Regions from separate parts of the Homo sapiens genome. Here region 2 is linked to region 1. Evidence: fine-mapped expression QTL. A gene starts in region 1. The other region holds a variant in brackets. All regions are shown on one strand. Distances are from middle to middle.

Region 1 (5,370 bases):
GTTCAAGGCTTTACAGTCCCGCTGTTCAGCAATAAAATGAGGCAAGAAATATTAGCCATCCCTGGCTGATGCCTTAATTCTTTCCCAACAATGTCAGAGAATCTGTACCCTACAGGTTTTAGTGCTGGCTAAAGCCTGACCCTCAGGCTGGCTTGAATGGAGCGGGAATGAGTTAAGGAGAGCCAGAAGGCTTTAATGGACACGGATTCCAAATAGCCCAGCTTGTGCGGGCCTCCTGCGGACTCACCCTCCTTTTCAACAGGCCTCGATTGTGTATGGCCCCAACAGACACAAAACTACCCATGAGCAGAGGTTACCCCCAGCCGGTGCAGGTCAGAGGCATTCTGGGGGGGAAGGGGAGAGGGGGACAGAGGGGAAGTGAGGGGCACATGGAGAAGGAGGGAAATGGGGGTGGGAGTGGGGGAAGGGACCACTGAAAGATGGTCTGGATCATTTATAAGGAGAGATTCACTAAGTCCCAGGCTGAGACCCGATCATCTCACTTCCAGGCAAACCATTTTTGAAAACTGGTTCAGAACAAATGGGAGCTATCCTAATGGGAAGTTGAACACACTGTGATCTAATTTTCAAAACAAATAAAATGCTTTTCTCTGGTTTTCCAAAAGCTACAAGTCTGAGGTTCAGAAGCTCTTAATAGGATGGCCTCTAATTTGACACTGCAAGATTTTAAAAAATTACAAATGGGTCATGTTTTACACACCAACAGAAGCCTTTTCCAGCAATTTTTCAATTATTGCATTGTGAGCCCTCCAAGAAAAGTAACTATTTTGGCTCACAGAGCCCAAAGTTACCAAGTAAAGGGAACAGCCTGTTCACAAGTTTGCAAATAGTCCTTTGAAATGTAGCATAGACTGTATCTGGGAGCTTTCTGGAAGAACATGGGCTTGACGTGGTCCTTTCCTTCCCTCTCAAGGGTCCTTAAACTTTTTAGGTGGGTCTTGGGCCCCCTTCTAAGTCTAGGGAAGCCAGTGGACCCCTTCTTAAAAGAATGTTTTTAAATGCATAAAATAAAATATGCAGAGTTACAAAGGAAGACAATTACGTTAGAATAGAGTTATCACAAATATTTAAAAACAATTTTGTAACATAGTAACTATGTTCCTTTTTGCTAACTAACTAGCAGTAGGCCTAACTGAAGTGGTAATGAGCAAACATGATACTTTGATGAATCCGCAACCACTCTCATGTGATATGAAAATATCTGTGGATGGTGCCTATTGGTGACAAAGTCACTAATACCACTGTGGTTGGTTGCTTGCATTTATAACATTAGTTAATGCTAAGTTTCAGTTAGAGTTAATGAAAATAAAGATGTATTTTTTTCCCCATCAAGTTCATAAGAGCCCTTGAATTCTATCAATGGAGAAGAAATCCTGCTAGAGGCAAGACAAAGATCAGGACCTTCTGCCCCAGGGTTAAGCTGAGGGGCAGTGGGCCAGGGACTCACTACACCCTCACTTCACTGGGAATCCTTCTTAGGAAAGCCACTGCTTTCTCTCTTCCTGCTCTGATGCTTTGGAAATGTTTTTAAAGGCAAATTGAAAGCATGTCTTATTCCTGCAATCCTGAAGGCCACATGTCCAAAGATTAATAAGGACCTTTGATGTGTTTCTTCAACAACTGAAATTACTCTCGTCAAATAAAGGGCTGGTTAATGAGCTAATTCTGAGTTTTAATCACGATCTTGTTCCAGTTCCCTTGGGTGGCATGAGCTTTGGGGTGAGGGCTTTTCTTTACGGAGTCAGCCCAGAGAGGATCTCTGTTCCCCACACTCTCACATTTTGGACATACGCTGACTCCGAGGCAACTGGGCGCACACATATCCCCTCTCTGGTCCTCACAGGGGAGCTGTCATCTTGCAATCACATAGCCATCGCATGCCATTGCAGGGGCAACCCAGCAGGCAGGCCCCCCTCCAACTGCCGCCCAGCCCCCCTCGCAGCCAGGGCAGGCTGCGGCGCCGACACACAGGAGCCGGCTGCGGGGCTGGGTCTCGGGCTCTCGGCTGGGGAGCGGGGAGCGCGCTCGCCCACGCCCCCCACACTCGCGGGCGCACACCCCGGCGCGCGCACGCTGCCACACACGGGCGCACGCACACGGCAGCCGGGCCAGGGACGACCCTGTCAGCTGCAGCCCCAGAGGTCCGGGGCGCGCAGCCGGGTCCCCTCGAGGGCGCAGCCGGCCGCCCCGCCCCGCCCCTCGAAGCAGCCGGGCCGGGCGCGCAGTGGGCTACAAACTTTCGCGGCGCGAGTCCGCCAAGGCAGCGCGCCGACTCGGGCTCGGCTCGGCTCTGCGCTGCTCCGGACGGCTGTGACCGCTGGCCGGGGGCTCGGGCCGCCGGTACCCACGGACCGCGCGCCCGGGTGCCTGCTCCGCTAAGCCCCTCGCCCCGCGCGGACCTCGGTATCCAGCGCCCTGCTGCCCGGGCTCTCCCCGCGCGCCCTACTGCCGCGAGGTCAGTCCGCAGCCTCCGGTGCGCCAGCGCTCGCCTTCCTCCTCCTGGACTTCGGCCCTTTGCCGCCCTCACCACGCCATGGCTCATGTCCCCGCTCGGACCAGCCCGGGACCCGGGCCCCAGCTGCTGCTGCTGCTGCTGCCGTTGTTTCTGCTGTTGCTCCGGGATGTGGCCGGCAGCCACAGGGCCCCCGCCTGGTCCGCACTGCCCGCGGCCGCCGACGGCCTGCAGGGGGACAGGGATCTCCAGCGGCACCCTGGGGACGCGGCCGCCACGTTGGGCCCCAGCGCCCAGGACATGGTCGCTGTCCACATGCACAGGCTCTATGAGAAGTACAGCCGGCAGGGCGCGCGGCCGGGAGGGGGCAACACGGTCCGCAGCTTCAGGGCCAGGCTGGGTAAGTAGAGGGTGCCCCAGGACCCCTTCTCCTCATTCTCCACCTTCCTCACTTTTCTGTCTCCCCACCCGTGCACCTCTACTTTTCCTCTTCTAGCCAACGGGTGAGTGGTTCATTCATTCTTTCACTAATGATTCACTGATCTCTCCATGCCAGGCCCTGAACCTCCAGTGGGGCACCAAGAGTGGCAGCAGGTGGCACAGAGGTCCTGCCCCTGGGGTGCTCCCACATTGCTGGACATACACAGACTACCCCATACACAAGGCTGTAAGCACAGAGAGTGGAAGAGGGGACATAGGCCAGGGGAGTATCCCTGTCATAGGGTCAATTATGTGGGCATTTTACAAATGAGAAGGGCACAGCCAGTGAACATAGGCAGCCCTGCAGAAGCTCCAGGCACTGGGCCCTGTCAGGAAGCAGGAGCCCCTAGCTGGCGTCAGCTATGGTTCCTGTGTCCAGGGAAGCAGAGTGGACTGAGAAGGGCCTTGGCTGCCCGGGATTGAGGACTTCCACGGACTGGCATGAAGCGTTCAGACCACAGGGGTTTAAGGAAAGGCCCAGGGGCTTAGGCAGTGGGAACACTCTGCCTATCTCCGGCCTCTGTCCCACCTTTCCACTTCCTCAGCCCCTTGGATGGAGCTGGGCAGAGGGCACTTGCAAAGGCCCATGCTGCCCTGTTCTGAGAGCACTTCCAGGCTCCTGCCTCAGCAGCCTGCCCACCTTTGCAGGCCCTGGGTAGAGAGGAGGTGCAGCCAGGGCCACAGGGGTGGTGAGAAGACCCTGGTTGTCATGGTGATTACTCCTGGTTGCAGAATAATGTTCCAGAAAATGTGGGTGGGGGTCTCCTGCAGCTCTGCAGAAGATGAGGCCATTCAACAGGAGAAAAATCTGCAGTCTACAGGCTCCCCTCCTGAGGGAGAGGGAAACAAGCCTAGCTGTGGAGCTAGACAGCCTGGGGTCAGATCTGTCACTGGCTGTGTGACTCAAGGTAACATCTGTGGCCTCTCATAACCATGGATTGGGGAGCACCTGCCACAAAGAGGCCCCATGCCCTCCTCCTCCACTTAGCAGACTCACCAGGTCAGTGGCCCTGGGCTCCAGGCCAATTGGATCTAACTCCATCCTCACTCATAACTTTCTTGCACCATGTGGGGTCCATTTCTTGAGGAACGTTATTAAATTAAACCATTTAAGAATCATCTGGCATGAACATGACCTTGGGTAAATCACTAAAGCTAGGTGGACTTGAGTGTATTCATCGATAAAATGGGCAAGGCTTGCCAATATCTCCCCTGTGCAGTTGAAGGGAAGATGAAATGAGGTCATATGTGCAAGCTCAGAGCCCAGCACTGGCCAGATTAAGTGTTGATGTACGGGATTCCCCTGGGAGCACAAATAATCGTGCTAAGTATTGTGTATTCCTGTGGGTTTAAACTTGACCTTGCTTCTCTATTAACTCAATCCTCAAAGCCTTGTAGTTGAGGAAGCAAGGCCAGCAGGGTCACTGCTGCGACACGGGTGAGCCTGCCCACTGAGCCCATCTACTTGCTGCAGCCAGGCATGGAGATGCCTTCTTGTGTCATTCTGTTTTCACAGAAAGGGGGTAGTACAAGTAGCAGTGGAGTTCAGGTTATTAATCTCAAAAAGGACCTGAAGACAGTATCTCAAATCCAGCACTCCCACTTTAAAGATAAGGAAACTGAGACTCAGTGGTTGTTCACAGTGGCAGGGGTTGGCAACTCCCATCTGCCAGGTCATTGCTGTTCTCACTGTCACTCCCCACACCCTGTCATCTCCCTCAGAGCTATGACCAGGGTCTGGGAGGGGTAGGGTGAAACAGACAAGCCTGGGAAATCAGGATTCTGGTAGTCTGGAGTGTCTGACAAATCCCTCTTCTTTGGAAGCCTGAGGCACATTTGGGTGTGAATCCCAGCTGTACCAGCTACCAGGTGTGTGCAGTGGCACAGGTTAGTTTACCTCTCTGAGCATCAGTTTCCTTGTAGTACAGTGAAGAAGTGAGGATTAAATGGGCTAAGCAGGTTTTGTGCTTTGCATACAGTGGGGGCCCAGGCAGGTTGCTTGATCCTCTCCTCCCTTGATTCATCTGAGTGTTTCATGCCAAGCCTCTTGCCTGCCCTCAGATGTGCCTACTTCCTGATCCAGTGACCTGTCTGAGGAGGTATGAGTTTGGGCAGGGACCCTTCTCTCATGGATGATGCCACCCATGTGGGAGGCTTCAGCTCTGGTCCGAGAACATGCCAGTCTCAGCCTGCTCCCCAGTGGTGGGTTTCTGCTGCCTCAGTGGGGCAGCACCTCTTCCTGAACAACAAATGCCTCCATCCCCACAGCCTGCGATACGTAACTATACCTCCCCCGCCACCGGGCAGTGCAGCTCAGCTGCCAAGTGCTGGCTGTGAGCTGGCCTCGTGGGGTCCAAATCCCAATTCTGCGATCTGGGCAAGGGACTGAACTTGTCCATGACTCAGTTTTTTTCACT
Region 2 (5,370 bases), 100 kb after region 1:
ATTTCACAACCAGCAGGATGCAGAAAATGCTTTCCAAGAGTTTGTCCAATCCCAAAGCATGGATTTTTACACTGCAGGAATAAACAAATTTGTTTCTCATTGGCAAAAATGTGTTGATTGTAATGGTTTCCGTTTTGATTAATAAAGATGTCTTTGAGCCTAGTTATAATGATTTAAAATTCACAGTCTGAAACTGTAGTTACTTTTGCCCCAATGGAGGCAGGCAGTGACATTCCCTGTGGAGCTTGATCCTCAGGCAAGGGAGGACCAGGTTCCCACAAGGGAATGTCACTACCTGCCTCTGTTGGTGCATCTGCCTCTGGGTGTGGGCCTCAGCAAGCTGTGAGTGCAGATCCCACACTTGGTGAGCACAGTGGGAGGGAGGCTGTGGGGCTAGGGGCTGCTTAGCTGGTACCCTGGGTATGGCCAGGCTTTCTCTGAGCTCATGCTTGTCTCAGGGCACTCAGGCTTTGGAGAGCTTATGAAGGGCCCTGCCTGGATCCTCCATGGTGGGGTCAGTAGCCCCCCTGACCCCAGTCCCAGTGGAGTAGGTGAGGAAGAACAGACATCTGCCTACCAGACAGACGCGCCTCACAGCTATGGAAATTGTGACAAATTGCTTGACCGTTCAGAGCCTCAAGTTTTTCATCTGTAAAATGAAAATAATACAGTATGCAGATTTAGATGCAGGCTAGAGGAGGCAGTGGAACAGTGGAGGGGAGAAGGCTGCTCTTGGATGCATGAGAACTACCACATACAAGCATGATGTTCAGGAGGCAAACATTTATAGACATGGTCATTGCTGGAGGGGAGAAGAGCCTCCTGGTAGGCTCCCCTGAGTACATAATACACAAAAGACCATAAAGCAACACAGATACAGAGAAAGGACTCAGATGAGGGCACCAGCCTTAGTTTTAACTGATACCATCTCCAGGACCTTGGACAAAACACTTAATTCACAGGCCTCACATTTTCCCTGCAAAACTTGAAATATTTCCCATTTCTGCCAAGCTGTACCTACCGATGGAGCTGTGGGATTGCAAAGACCTTTGCGTCTTGGGCGGGTAGGGCAGATGTGATTGATCCCCACCTAGATGGAAGTCTCACAAGGCTCCAACCCCCTTCAAGCTCCTTACTCTGTGTCTGGGGACTAAGTGGGAGAATATTAGCAGTAAGATCTGGAAGTCAGGACAATAAGGGCATGTGGCTCTCCCTGATGCTGGGGAAATGATGACGCCAGGACAGCAGTGGCCAGGTGTGCTTCTTCCCTCCCCAGTGGTGTCTGCTGGAGAAGGCTCTCCATGCCCAGAGCGGCTTGGCTTTGCAAGCTTATAAGAAATATGGGAGGCAAAATGGCCCAAAGTGCACATCCTCCCTTGCCTGAGGCCCAGGCTCCCACAGGGAATGTCACTACCTCCCTCTGTGGGTGCTGGGAAATGTGGGACAGTGAGCAGGATCTGGAGGTGTCATGAATAGGGTTAGCAGGTCACACACAGGCTGCCAGAAGGATCCCCAACCGAAGGGTCCGGTCTGATGTCCAAGAATCCAAGAGTCCAACAGAGGAATGATGGACCAGGTCTGGGTCTGTTGTTCTCAAGGGGCGTCTGATGGACCGTGATTCCCAAGAGCTCTGCCCTATCCAATCACAGATGGTTGGGGATGGATAAACCCCCCGGGTAAGTGGGAGCAAGGAGAGCCAGCATATCAGAATTGCTCAGGGCTTTTCAGCTGGGACATCCTCCCACAGTTCTTATCTACACGGCCCCCAGCTAAGGTAACCAGTCAGCTATCCTCCTAGTCAGCTGACTATGGTAATAGTCAACTATTAGCAAAAAATGTACCTCATCCCTGAAAGCCTGTTGGTCCCAGACAGACAGGTCTGGGTGGTCACCCTAATGAAAGTCACCACCCAGATGATCCACTGTGGTTGCTGGGGGTGTACCCCAGCCAAAGCTCTGCTGGGGTCGGGGGAGCTTGTTAAGAGACTGCTAGGAGGCTGGAGTGGACAGACACCTGCCCACCAGACAGATGCGCCTCAACTCCCTAACACAGGTCTCCTTTGTTTTCAGGCCCAGCAGCCTGGATTCCTGCCTTGACCTTTATGGCTCTGCAATACAGAAGAGATTGCAGAGAAATAAGTAAAGTGAGGCTGCAGCCTTCCCTGCACTGCAGGAAGCTTTTCCTCTGGCAGGTAGAAAGCACAACCCATCAGATTGGGTGGGCGTGGGAGTTCCTCGGTGGGGGACACAGAGCACAAAGTGGCATTCTGAAACAGGAATGAGGCCAGCGCTCACTGGTTCCATTGGATCTCGGCAGCCTTGGCTGGCTCCTGCCTGTGAGCCCTGGGAATACTTGAGCCCCAAGTTTGCCCTTGGGGACATCGCAGGCTGGGAAGGGACATTAGGTAGGTAAATCAGTGACTCAGTCCCGGAACCCTGGGTTATGCACTG[C/A]CGAGGGTTCAAGGAAAGGGACAAAGAACTCACATGGAAGGTTAAAGGAAAAAGCAGGAACTCCTAACGACAAAGTCAAGAGTGGCTTCCAGGGATGTGGGTCTTTGAACTGGGTCTTGCAGGATGGAAAAGACAAAACACTTAATTCACAAGCCTCACATTTTCCCTGCAAAACTTGAAATATTTCCCACCACAGGGGACCTGTGGTGGAGTGAGTGGTCTTGCTTGGCTTAGCTTGCTGAGCTAATGAGGTTAGCTCAGGCAGGGCTGGGAGAGGGCTGGGAAGGTCAGTTTGAGGCCAAAGCCACAGGGGCTCATTATGCCAGGCCAAGGAGCTGAGATTTCCTGCTGTGAGCCATAGACAGCCAGAGAAGGCTCTTGAGCAGAGGAGTGGGATGATCAAGGTGGCACTTAAGGAAGAAAAGTCTGATGACTGTGGGTAAAATGAATGGGCAACAAGGGCAGGATCCATGGGGAGCTCCGCTGGGGATGTATGGCAGCACTGTCGCTGAGGGCCACTGAGGGCCAGCCGGCAGGAAGGAGGGTCAGGGAGAGGAAAGGAAGGCTGTGTGCATGGCTGCCAATAGGATGAGTCACTCCTCTGGGATGAAGGAGGAATGAGGGAGAGGAGGGGGAGGAGGGAATGGGGTGAAGAGGCAAAGAATTTTCCAGTAGAAGGGAGGCCAGCTGGGAGGGCTGTGTGTGCATCTCCCTACTTGTTCAGCATGGGGGGTGTGTGTGTGTGTCCATGTGTGACTGTGTGTGTGGTATGCATGCATGTTTGCGCATGTGTGTGCGTGCATGTGTGTGTATGTGTACGTGGTGTGTGTGAGTTTGAGTTTCTTTGGGGTGTGTTGGGATTGTGGGGATGCAGCAAGTTGCCATCCTGACTTTCTTTTGTGGATCCCTCGTCTCCACAGGCCTCAGAGTCCACTGCATTTATCTCACTTCCCTGTGTCCAGCAAGGGGCCCCAAGATGGAAGAGTTGGGGTGGGAGGTGGGGAGTGGGCCTCACCGCCCTGGCTATGCTTGGGTCCAGTGCAGCCAGTGCCTCTGGCTTCTCAGGGCCATGTGCTTCCTCCCCAGCCTGAGAATGTAGCTGTCTTTCATCACCTACTCCACGGAGGGCAGCATCGTCCCACAGCTCACATTCACCCCAGGCAGGGGAGTGCTGCTTTGAGCCCCCAACGGAGGCCTGAGAGGCTGGGCCAGAGGGAGCTCCAGAGAGCTGTGGGGCTCCCTGAGACCTTGGTTGGGAGCCTGACAGCACACAGGGCAGGCTGCTCAGGGCATCTCACAGTACCCACCCTGACCCCAATGCCTGTTCCCCTGAACCCTCTGACCCCTGGTTGCACTGTTACCTGTAGCCCCTGTGCTCCCGAATTTCTTGGCCTCCCTGACCTTCTCTGTCCCCTGTCCTCCCTCTGCCCTACCTCCTTCCCCAGAGTGCGGGGGCTGGTGGGCAGGTGTGTGTGTCCTGTGAACACCTGCCTGTGCTGGCTGCTGCTCTCTGTGTGCCCCTCTCTGCTCTGGCCTTCTCTATGGGAGGGAGACAGGGTCAGGGTAAGGGGGAGTGCTGGAGAGTTTAGTGCAGAAGAGCTTGGTCCCCTGGTGGGTCTCAGACAGGGGAGACCATGGGTGGGGTCCTGAGCCCCAGGCCAGGCTGGGGAGCTGGAGGAAGGCAGGAGGAGCAAGCTCAGGCAGCTGGAGTTGGCCTAGAGGGGTGCCCAGGCCCAGCAGGAGGCACTGCAGAGCTCCTGATTGGCAGGAGGTAAGAACACTTCTGATGCAAATGCCTGGAACTGGGCACTAAGAGGGTGAAGCACAGAAGAGAGCCGAGGATCCTGAGGACTGGATGGGGGCCTGGGCCCCACTTACAGCTTTGAGGAAGAGCTGGGACGGGGCTTCTGCTCCCTGAGCTGGGGGAAGGCTTGAGTTTGTGCATAATGTGCTGTGGGTTTGGGAGAGGGAGACCTAGGTGGGCATGAGGGCGAAGAAAGCAAGTTCACGGGGAAGGACTCTGGGTGGTGGCCCAGAGGGGCAGCAGGGGCTGGGCAGGGCCTGGCCTCCTTCCCTCCTGGGCTGAGGCTCTCAGAGCTCCCCCACATGGCAGGGACTCTCTTCCTGCAGTGCGAAGCCAGCCTTCAGGGTCCATGCTTGGCCCAGCCTTGCTGTGCTGGCTCAGCCTGTCACATTGGATTAGCCTGTCCCAGTCCTGCCATCAGAGCCAGCTCTGCCTGGCCCAACCAGTCCTGTCTGCTTTAACAGAGGCTGACAGGCCACATCCCCGAGCCAGCCTGCCGTGCTCAGCTGCCTGCACACCCTTTGGGGCCGCTTCTTTCAGCCTTTGGTCTTTTGGTTTCGGGAGCACAGGAAGTCAAGGAGCCATAGCACTCTTATTAAGCAGATTTGCTACTTTGGTAGGATAAAGAGAGTGGAGGAGATTGAGTCAGGGTCAGGGGTCTGGAGTTGTGGGTGCTGGGTGCAGGGCTGGGGGCTTAGCAGGATGCCTTTTCCGAACTCAGCCCTGCCTTTTGAAGGATACGTTGCCCAACACAAGGGAAGCCCTTAGGGTTAGGTTTAGGATTAGGATTAGAGTTAAGATTAGGAATGCCAGTCCCATTGCCTGTCCCTGAATCTCAGTTGCATGCCTTTGGATTAGGGTTAGGGTTAGGGGTTAGGGGTTAAGGGTTAGGGGTTAGGGTTAAGAAAGCTGGTCCCATTGGAAGGGCCTGATTTGTAGTCACACATCTATGGGATGCTCCCATTTCACCATGGAGGGTTCATGCTGGGCCTTTATGAGCTCTCCAAAGTCTAAGTGCCCTGAGACAGGCATGAGCTCAGGGAAAGCGAGGCTATACCCAGGGTACCAGCTAAGCAGCCCCTAACCCCACACCCTCCCTCCCACTATGCTTACCAG

The links.
Region 2: its variant is fine-mapped to the expression of GDF10 in whole blood (INTERVAL, PIP 0.93).

What each region holds. Positions count from the first base shown.
Region 1 is chr10:47,298,098-47,303,467 of GRCh38, forward strand. GDF10 (growth differentiation factor 10) reads left to right here and starts at 2,100. Exons shown (of 3, transcript NM_004962.5): 1 at 2,100-2,873. The coding sequence starts at 2,555.
Region 2 is chr10:47,400,058-47,405,427 of GRCh38, forward strand. No RefSeq gene overlaps it. Among named protein-coding and RNA genes, the nearest start is that of LINC03029, 12 kb to the right of the region's middle. The variant C/A (reference allele first, on the strand shown) is at 2,451.